Regions from separate parts of the Homo sapiens genome. Here region 2 is linked to region 1. The links come from fine-mapping of genetic effects on gene expression. Tissue or cell type: lung. Region 1 holds a variant in brackets; the other region holds the start of a gene. All regions are shown on one strand. Distances are from middle to middle.

The links. PIP is the estimated chance that this variant, and not a neighbour inherited with it, causes the effect. A credible set is the group of variants that fine-mapping cannot tell apart.
Region 2: PRRG1 starts here. The variant in region 1 is the best candidate, but not a certain one, in a credible set for the expression of PRRG1 in lung (TOPMed, PIP 0.76).

Annotation. Positions count from the first base shown.
Region 1 is chrX:36,927,364-36,932,517 of GRCh38, reverse strand. No RefSeq gene overlaps it. Among named protein-coding and RNA genes, the nearest start is that of FAM47C, 78 kb to the left of the region's middle. The variant A/G (reference allele first, on the strand shown) is at 2,009.
Region 2 is chrX:37,346,681-37,351,834 of GRCh38, reverse strand. PRRG1 (proline rich and Gla domain 1) reads right to left here and starts at 2,471. Exons shown (of 4, transcript NM_001142395.2): 1 at 2,440-2,471. RefSeq lists enhancers at 1,653-2,163, 2,164-2,675.

The DNA of each region.
Region 1 (5,154 bases):
CATTATTTGGTCCTTTTATGGTGAAACAAAAAATTTTAATGCAGATGCTATATTTTTTAAAAGTTCCCTATTAAAGTTAATAGAATAACATTGAGTTAATTCCTGCACTGAAGTTGCCAAGTGTTGACATTCTGCTTGGCACATCCCTGCTATGATCTTATGAAATGCATAGTTTTGGAATTGGTTGAGATGGTATTGGTTGGTGATGCAAACATATAGACATTTTATTTATAATTGTGATTTATAAATACTAACCTTCACTTAATTTTAAATGCAATTCATTTTTCTATTTGTTATATATAATTCTTAAAGCTACCTATTTATAAATAAAAAGCTACAAATTTATAATATAGTATCTGGATTTACAGACCCCTGACTCTTTGTTAACTTTTTGATTTATAAACAAGGGACCAAAAGTCTCAGTTGATAGATAAAAACTCTTCTGCTGGATTTATGCACTCTAACCAAGAGCCCTGGTGTAAATCATTGCCGAGTTTACAAATGTGTCCATTAGTTAGTGATTTGGCTGTGTGATCTGAAAACACCTTCTCTCTTAACTATTAAATTCCCATTTATCTTTTTAATACATGGTACATACTGGTAATTTGTTACTACCAAGAGCTGATTTATTAGAACACTGTAATACATTTTATAACATAAATTTTAAAGGTTTTGAATTAGATACACCATATTCTTGAAACTCCATGGCTGAAAAACAATTATCAGAAGGAAAAATTAAATTTTACATCTAACATCCTTGAAAACAAAACATAGAGTGCTGGCCATAAGAATATTTGTCTTTTGTTTCTATACTATCTCCCCATCCCCTGTATTAGAAGTTTCTTTTTTAAACAAGTGTGTGCAATTGTTGGCTGGACCTAAGCAGACTTCCAAGGGAAGATAAGTACTAGTGCTTGACCTGGACATATTGTTGTGATTGAAACCGCCTTTGCAAAATTATGACTGAGACAGTAAAAGAGATCTAACTTAATTGACTCCATCTTGCTTCTAACCTCCAAGCTGTCTTTGTGGATTCCTGGGCATAGGCTGAACTAACCATGGGAGAAACTCAGTTTATAGTTTATAGTTTAAAACAAAGATGATAACAGCCCTTCCCCAAAGCAGACCTCCCTCTTGCCTGGGACTAAACTGCCTTTGTAGGACTAACGTTAGTCACAAGAGTAGAAATTATGGTTTAGGAGTCATGCAGCTGGAGGCTACAAGATTCTGACCCTCCCTAAACTGCTAGGAAGATCGGTGCTTGAAATATTTTGCAGACCTTGCACTTGATGTATCAGCTGGCACCACCCAGATCAATAAACTGGCTCATCTGATCTTGTGGCCCTCACCTAGGAACTGACTCAGTACAAGAAGACAACTTCCTTATGATTTCATCCCTGACCAGTCAGCACTCCTGGCTCACTGGCTTCCCACCACCCACCAAGTTGTCCTTAAAAACTCTGCTCCCTGAATGCTTGGAGAGACTGATCTAAGTAATAATAAAACTATGGTCTCCTGCACAGCCAGCTCTGTGTGAATTAGTCTTTCTCTATTGCAATTCCCCTGTCTTGATGAATTGGCTCTGTCTAGGCAGCAGGCAAGGTGAACTCCTTGGGCAGTTACATGATTACCATGTACTAAGCCCCTTGTTGAATTTTGGGAAGCCTGCATGGTTTCATGGTGGTTCTCTCTTCCATTCGTGCTTTTCACACTCTGGTGCATATTTGCATTTAAATACCAGCTTGGGGAGCTCAGAGCACTTGTTGAGCAGCCTATTAATTACATATCTGTTAAAGTTATTTATTGTTTCCCTAGCTGAAGGATTTATGTTTATCAATGTAATGCTTTTGCCTACTAGTGACTGAACTACTGGCCACTGTCAGTGAAAATTGCTCCTACAGAGGATTACAGCAAGGCCTGAGGGCACTGAATAAGGATTAGCATTTTAGAATAATAATGTTCTCAAAGTGTTATGTACAATTAAAAAAGAATGATGTTCCTCTTTAGT[A/G]TATCAAATTTGGCAGATCTGTGTGGCTCACTTTGCTTCTTAGGTTCATGTGGTTCACATTTGTACTTTGCTTCCCCTGAAGGTGATATATTTTGTCAAATGGTGATATTTACTGGGAATTTTTTCTTACTGAATTTTCAAAAGCTGAAAGCTATCTAAAGTGGGCAATTAAAGGCATAGATATTCCTTTGGGTGGACTAGCAAAACAATAGACAGAAATTATTACCTTGTAATCTCTATCTAGTCCTGAACTTTGTAGGAATCTTGAGCATTTGGGGCAAGAAAAAATGATGGGTGGCTAATTTGCTGTAAAGCAGTTGGGATTGACCATAAAGTATTTTTTCATAAAGGATTTTTTAACAATACAATTGTTAGAAGAAAGTAGTCCATATATTTTTTTTAAAGACCTCCTTTGAGACTATCTGTGAGCATAGCACAGGGATTGAGGTTGGACACATGAAGGAACTAACACAATTTCTGGAAGTTCAGCATGGTCTGTGTGCTCGAGGGCAAGTCATGGTAGCAAGGCGAGATTAAAATTCAGAGAAGTAAATAAACTACATAATATTTTTCCTGGAAATTCTGGTGCTTCGGCTAGATTTCCCTGCTGAGTAGATGAGTGAGTCACTGCAAGTCACATCAAACTTTCAGAGTCTTAATTCATCTACTTTATATAGAGTGAACTTGATTAACAAACATTTATTGAACACCTATTATTTTCCAGGTACTGTTGAAATTATTGGGAAATGAGTGATCATTTAAACTACAGTCCAACTTCATTGAATTAAAGTCCATAAGAGAAGGCAGACATTTTTACAACTAACAAGATCACATATGTATTAGAAAAGTTTTTTTTTTGTTTGTTTGTTTGTTTGTTTGTTTTGAGATGGAGTCTTGCTCTGTCACCCAGGCTGGAGTGCAGTGGCGCAATCTCAGCTCACTGTAACCTCTGCCTCCCGGGTTCACGCCATTCTCCTGCCTCAGCCTCCCTAGTAGCTGGGACTACAGGTGCCCACCACCATGCCTGGCTAATTTTTTGCATTTTTAGTAAAGACGGGGTTTCACCATGTTAGCCAGGATGGTCTTGTTCTCCTGACCTCGTGATCCACCTGCCTCCCCCTCCCAAAGTGCTGGGATTATAGGCGTGAGCCACCATGCCCGGCCATAAAAGTTTTTTAAAAAAAATACTGTAGAAGAGGAAGGAAAAACTCTATGCTTTCTTTAGTCCTGCAGTATTTGTGGTTCTTGGTGTGGCTAGCAAGTGACAGAGAAGGAGAAAATACCAATTCTTTGAGAACAACTTTGAGAACAAAGAATTGGTATTTTGTACTGTCTGATGGCTCCCTGAGAGATAATCTCAGGGGCTTGCTTTTGTTTTGCTTTCCCAATGGAGTTCCCTCAGCACTGGATTGGCTTTCCAGTAGGCATTTATCAAAAGCATTTAAAGTCCATGTCCACATGAGATGAGGGATAACAGATAGAGCAAGCAGCAGGCAGGCCGAAAAGCCTGGAAAGGGAGAGACTGCTGAAGGAGATACATGGGAGAATAATGGCTTTGAAAAGGTGCCACCTATATTGGAGAATGTAAAAGTCATACACACACTAAGGGCTGGATACATGTTCAGAAAAGACTTGCAAAAACCCTAAGCTATCACCTTCGGCTGGCATTTAGGTTCCATGAAGATAAAGTGAAGGCAAAGGCAGAGTTGTAAATGGCTTGGCTAAGCATTGAAATGGTGACCACAATGGAGCAAATACGCAAAAACTGGGAGAGTATTAAATTTTTTTTTGGCTACAGGTGTTTAAGGAAATCCCTATAAAATTATTAGCTTACCACAAGTTTAATAGAACAGAGGCCTCAATAATAAAGTGAAAAATAATGCAATCTTTGCAAAAATAGCCTAGAAAAGTCACTAAAAATACTACCCAAAACAACAACCACAACTGACAAGAAGCAACAACAAATCATGGGAAGGAAGTAAAATCTGATTTCTATAGTTACCACATTATAATATTTAAAAAGTATTAGCAAAAAATTATAAGGCACACAAAGAAACAAAAGTATGGTTCATTCCCAGGAAAATAAGAAATTAATAGAAACTATCTCTGGGGAAGCTCAGACATTGGACATACTAGACAAAGACTTTAAATCAACTATCTTAAGTGTGCTCAGAGAACTAAAGAAAACCATGGGCAAAGAAATAACAGAAACCAGGAGAATAATGGCTTGATAAATACAGAATATCAATAACAAGATAGAAATTATTTAAAAAAATAGAAATTTTGGAGCTGAAAAATCTAATAATGGAAATGAAAATTCTGTAGAGAAGCTCAGCAGCAGATTTGAGTGGGCAGAAGAAAGAATCAGCAAGTCTGAAGATAGGACATTTGAGATTAACCAGTCTGAGGAAAAGAAGGAAAATAAAATATGAAGACATTTGAAACGAGCCTAAGGAGCCATATGGGATTCCATCAAGCATACCAACACACACATTATGGGAATCTCAGAAGGAGGGGAAAGAGATCAATGGTCATAAAGAATATTTGAAGAAATATTGCCCAAAAACTACCCAATATTGATGAAAGACATAAATCTACACATTCAAAAAGCTCAACAGATTCAAAATAGGATAATCTCAAATACATTCATAATAAGACATAAAATAAATACATTGTCAAAAGCCAAAGAGAAAGAGAAAATTTGGAAACAGTAAACAAACAAAAAACCATGACACATAATGGAACTTCCATAAGATCAACAACTGATTTTTCATCAGAAACCATACACATCAGTAGGAAGTAGGATAATGTATTTAAGGACTGAAAGAAAAAAATACCTGTCAACCAAGAATTATCTATTTGACAAAACTGTCCTTCAAAAATGAAGGAGAAATTAAGACATTCTTATATAAATTAGAGCATGACAGTTAATTGTTAATAGACCCAACCCATAAAAAATGCTGAAGGGAGTTTTTTAGGCTGAAATAAAAGGAAATTAGATAGCAACTTAAAGTCATATGAATAAATTATTAAAACAAGTGTTATTGTATTTTTGGTTTGTAAATGCTTTTTTGCTCTTATATAGCAATAAGTATAAATCTGTGCTAATGGGGATATAATTGATAAAAATGGAATTTGTGACAATA
Region 2 (5,154 bases), 420 kb before region 1:
TAGTACTTCCTAAATTCCAGCAGCAACCTATTTGTGTCTTTCTACAAATAGTTAATTTCACTAGTTTCAGTATCAGAAACTGGCCTTTTTAAAAACTTCACCTTTTTCTGATCCCTATTTTCCCTTTATCTGTAGAGTTTTTGCACCTCTTTTTAGAGGGATAAACTATGACTAATACATGAGAACATATTTCCACACAGTACTTATCCATATTCCAAATAATGCTGCTCAAATATTAAATACAATTTCAGAATTCTGAATTTCTTGTATTATCCCATGAACTTTATGCAATATGAATTACTATCTTTTTTTTCTTTCTTTCTTTCTTTTTTTTTTTTTTGAGACGGAGTCTCGCTCTGTAGCCCAGGCTGGAGTGCAGTGGCGCGATCTCAGCTCAAGGCAAGCTCCGCCTCCCGGGTTCATGCCATTCTCCTGCCTCAGTCTCCCTAGTAGCTGGGACTACAGGCGCCCACCACCACGCCCGGCTAATTTTTTTGTATTTTTAGTAGAGACGGGGTTTCACCATGTTAGCCAGGATGGTCTGGATCTCCTGGCCTTGTGATCCACCTGCCTCAGACTCCCAAAGTGCTGGGATTACAGGAGTAAGCCACTGCACCCGGCCTATGAATTACCATCTTTCTAACAGCATTTATTAATATATATCTGTAAGTTAGTTTATTAGGTGCTTATCACATGCCAGGCAGCTCTAGGTACAAGGGTAACACAAAAGACTGAGGTTCTAGTAGTAATGGAGAAATAAGGCAAGTTATATAAATTTAACAGAAAAGGGTGTGATTAATTCACTCTGGAGAAGATGGCAAAATTTTTCAAGAAGTGAATCAGGCTAAGTCTAGAAAGATGAATAGGAGTTCATCAGGCACTAGAAAAGAGAAAAGGCATCCCTAACACTCCCCGCCCTCCACCTGCCCCAAATTTGGGAAAATAGAAAAAGAAAGAATAACATAACAATAAAACCAGAAGAAATCCTGTTCACCTCATGCCTGGGGTTGGTGCAGGGGTGGGGGTTGGGCGGGGTAATTGTGTTTTTAAGTATACTTCAGATCAGAAAGTAAACGTTTATAAAACGGGATTTACAATCGAGGGAAAGGGGTGGAGAGGAGGAAGTTCAGTTTATTTTGTTGTATTAACTTAAAACAAATGAGTAAAAATATCAACATCTATGCTTGGGAACACATATACTATCTTTCATAAAAGTCCCTAAGTTTGAAAATGAAAGCATATGGAGCTTTATCCAATATTACAATATTTGCCCTAATGTTTTGTATCCTTAATATTATTTTCAAAGGTTCTAAAGTGAGTCGGCCCAAGATCTTGACAGCACATCCACACACATGCCCAATAATCCACTCTTGATTGAAACAATCAACAGTAGCCTAACCAACTTTTCACTTACCCTGGCTTGAACACCTTCGCATCCTTCAAAGTCTGGCTTTATAGTATGACCATCAACAGACAAATAATTAAGCTCTAAGTTTTGTCACTCAACCTCTTCATCCTTTCATTCAATTATTTCCTCTCAAATCCCATTAGTTTCGCTTTTCTCCTAAAGGGACTCGTAGAAAATACTTGCACAGCACAATCACAAAAACCAGTGGCTGGAGCCAGAGTCCAAACGCGCACACACTACTTTCCAGTCATATCCCTCTTGGGGCTGTTCCTACCAGTGATCAAATTCAGCGGACCAGGAAGAAGGAAAAACCTGAAGCAGGAAGACTGTTTCTCTTCCTTTCACTTCCCCCCACGCCGCCTCCCCCTCCCCCCGCTCTCCCATCCCCCAGGGCCGCACCGCGACCGACCTCGCACGCACCCCCTCCCACTGTCACCCGCCACTGCCTACAAAACAGTCATAGCCTTTGTTAAAATGTCCACGGGCACAATGGATCAGAAGAGGGACACATTCCCGGGGGTGGGTAAAGGAAAGTCACACGAACGCCACGCCCTCCTTGGGACTAGCCCGGGCCGACAGCCCACCGCCTCCAAATCCTTTCCCCTCCGACGGGGAATGTTTCTAGCAACTCTGCACCAGAGAAAGCAGCGCTGGAGGAAGGGATGAGCTTGGGACGTCCCTCATGGGCACCAAGCAGGGGACTGAACTTGAAGCTGGGACACCCTCCAGCACCGTTGGCAAGCCTCGCGGTCCTGCCCAGTCTGTGTGCGGACTTCCAGCCTGTAAACCCCATTCCTTCAATTTTTTTTCTCGTCATACCCACCCTCACCCACTCCCGCTACCACGCACTCCGCTCCCCACGCGGCCCTGGCCGGACACCCACAGGCAGCGTCGCTACCAACGCTACCGCATATCTGACGGGTTTCTCCTCGCAGAACCGAAGTCACCCCCACACACCCCAATCCTTCCTGGGGCGCTTCGCCTGGATCACGTTTCCCCAGCTAGGAACCCAGCGCGGCCGCCACACTCACAGCGGGTCCCGCTCCGCTACTCGCCGTTCTGCGAGCCGCACGTCGCGCCTGCGCGCTCCTATTTCTGCCGAGCCTAGCTGGAGCCAGGAACCGGGAGCGGACTGGAAGGGAGGTGGAAAGAGGCGGGGGCTGGGCTGGGGCGGGGTTAAGAGAGAAGGGGCGGGAACAGGGTGGGGCGCGGGGGTGGGAAACGAGGGGCGGATCCTCCACCGCTTCTGCTGGGAAGACCCAGGGCTCAGGGCATCCTGCTGGAGCTTTCCACTATTGGGGTTTATTTATAACACATACAGAAAAGCCGTCGAGGCCCCTCTGTGCACTCCCACACGCACCGTGGAGAAAGCCTGGCTCGGCGCGGGCCCAAGTAGTCAGCCGTTGGGCCGCCACGTCTCTCCTAGCCACCGCGGGTCCCCGCCAGCCTTTTTCTCTTTCGCATACATACCTCACCACACATTATTCCTTTTCCTAGTCATTTCTCCTCATCGCGTACTCTTCAGCCCTGGTGAAGTGAGGGGCATAGGGATTTCTCATCCACAGACCGCCTGTGTAGGGCATCCTAGTTAATATACCTCTTTGCTATGTGTGAGCCCAGATCGTGGTTGGTGACTATTCGACCATTGTCCACTGTTACAGCTCAGAGAATTGCACTTTCCTTGAGGAATAATTCCCTTGCCACTGTTTCCGGACAACTCTTGGTGACAACTATCTGCTTTTTCTAAAAAAAAAAAAAAAAAAAAAAACCGTCTTGTACAAACTTACCCAAATATCTTGAGAAGAAAACCCATCTTTGACCTCGCTTTTTAGGTAGAGCTATCTTAGAACTTGAATCTTAAACTTCTACAAGCCCCTCTAAGAAACAGAATAAAAGGCTTTTGCTATTGTGTAAACTTTGACCTAATGCTTGGAGGTTTTCTGGCATTTTGCATCATAAGGAGTCTAGCTTGATTATTATTCCATGCTGCATGCGTGCTTGGTTTTAACTTGTATGCTTTTCTGTTTACAGTCTGGTCAGCTGTGGCATCTCACATGCTTTCAGATCAGCTATTAAAATAAACACACGCCTGAGTGAATCCAAAGTGAATTGGGCTGTGGACCTGAAGTGATTTATTCCAAACTAAGTTCCCCTTCTTTTTACTTTAATTGTGATGGAATTAAGAAACATTTGGCTTATTAAGAATAAAAGAATTGCCACAGGACCACACCAATAGTCTTTCCTAGCAAGCATTTTAACTGTGATGGGAGCATTTTATGGGAGAGTTTGGTGATTGCCCTTAAAGATCTGAATATCCCAAAATTCTTCCATTTAACCTTTCTTGTCTTCCATTCATATATTTTACAAATCAGATTTTCTAGAACTCATTTCTATCTTGCACTTGTCAAATAAGCCTAGGGAGGATGTAGAGAGATATATTGCCAAAAGGTATATTGGTAATGTAGGCACAAATTTTGCAGGATTAGTAAGTCTGTAAGTGCCTGGAAGCAGGACTTTGTCCTATTCATTTCACTAGTAAAATATTTCACATACATGTTCTTAAAAAAATTGCTAGGCTAATAAAAGTAAGATTTGCATCCTTAATAAATGTGCATATGTGTTTTTTTAAAACTTTTCACTTGATTATTTTTTTCTTTTTTGTCTAAATTTTTCAGGATATTTTGGTTGAAATGACAAAAACTAGATTGAAGTAGATCAGGCAAAAACAGGAAGTTATTGTGTAACCCAAGTTGTGAAAGGGTAGGTCTATGATTGGCCATAGGATTAAATGGAACCAGCAACAGGAATGCTTTGAATTCCAGCTCAGGCTCTCAATACAGACAGGGTCATTCTAACAGAACATCTCAAAGTCATGTTCTGCTGGTTTGGCACCGTAGCCTGTTACAAGTTGCTCACACCTACCAAGTTCCTACCAGAGAGAAAGTATCTCTCTTCTCTCACTTCCAGTTTTTAAAGCAACAGTTAAAACATCTGATTGGGTAGAATTGAGTACCGTAACCACTCCTGAAGAGAAAATGCGTATGTGACATAAGAATGGGACCCAATTAGAACCACATGGTTAAAGAAAAAAAAATAAAGAGAAAAATTTCTAAATGAAAACAAACAGTAAGGGGGAGATGCCGTTTTCAGAAGAGACAGGCAATGGACAGACAAAAAAAAAAAGATGTCCACCATCGAAACTGTATTTAAGGAATACAGCCTTGGAATTACCTTTGACCCCTCTTTCTCTCCCTCTCCCTGCCTCCCCAAGTATTCAAGTATTAACAAAGCTGGTTAACAGTGTCTGTGTATTAGTTTTCTGTGGCTGCTGTACAAAAATTACCACAAACTTCATGATTTAAAACAACACAAATTTATCTTATGGTCCTGGAGGAAGTCTGACAAGAGTCACACTGGACTAAAATCAAGGCGTCAGCAGAGTTGAGTTCCTTTATGGAAACTTTTTGGGAGAATCTTTTTTCTTGCCTTTTCCACATTCTAGAGACCTCCCACATTCCTTCATTCATGGCTGTATTCCATTTTCAAAGCCAACAATAATATTACTCTGACACACTGACACTTCTGCCTACCTCTTCCACATGTAAGGACCTTTCTGATTATATTGGGCACATTAAGATAATCCAAAACAGTCTCCCTATCTGAAGGGCAAATGATTAGCAGCCTTAATTATATCTGTAACTTTAATTCCCTTTTGCCATGTAACATATTTTCACAGGTTTTGGGTA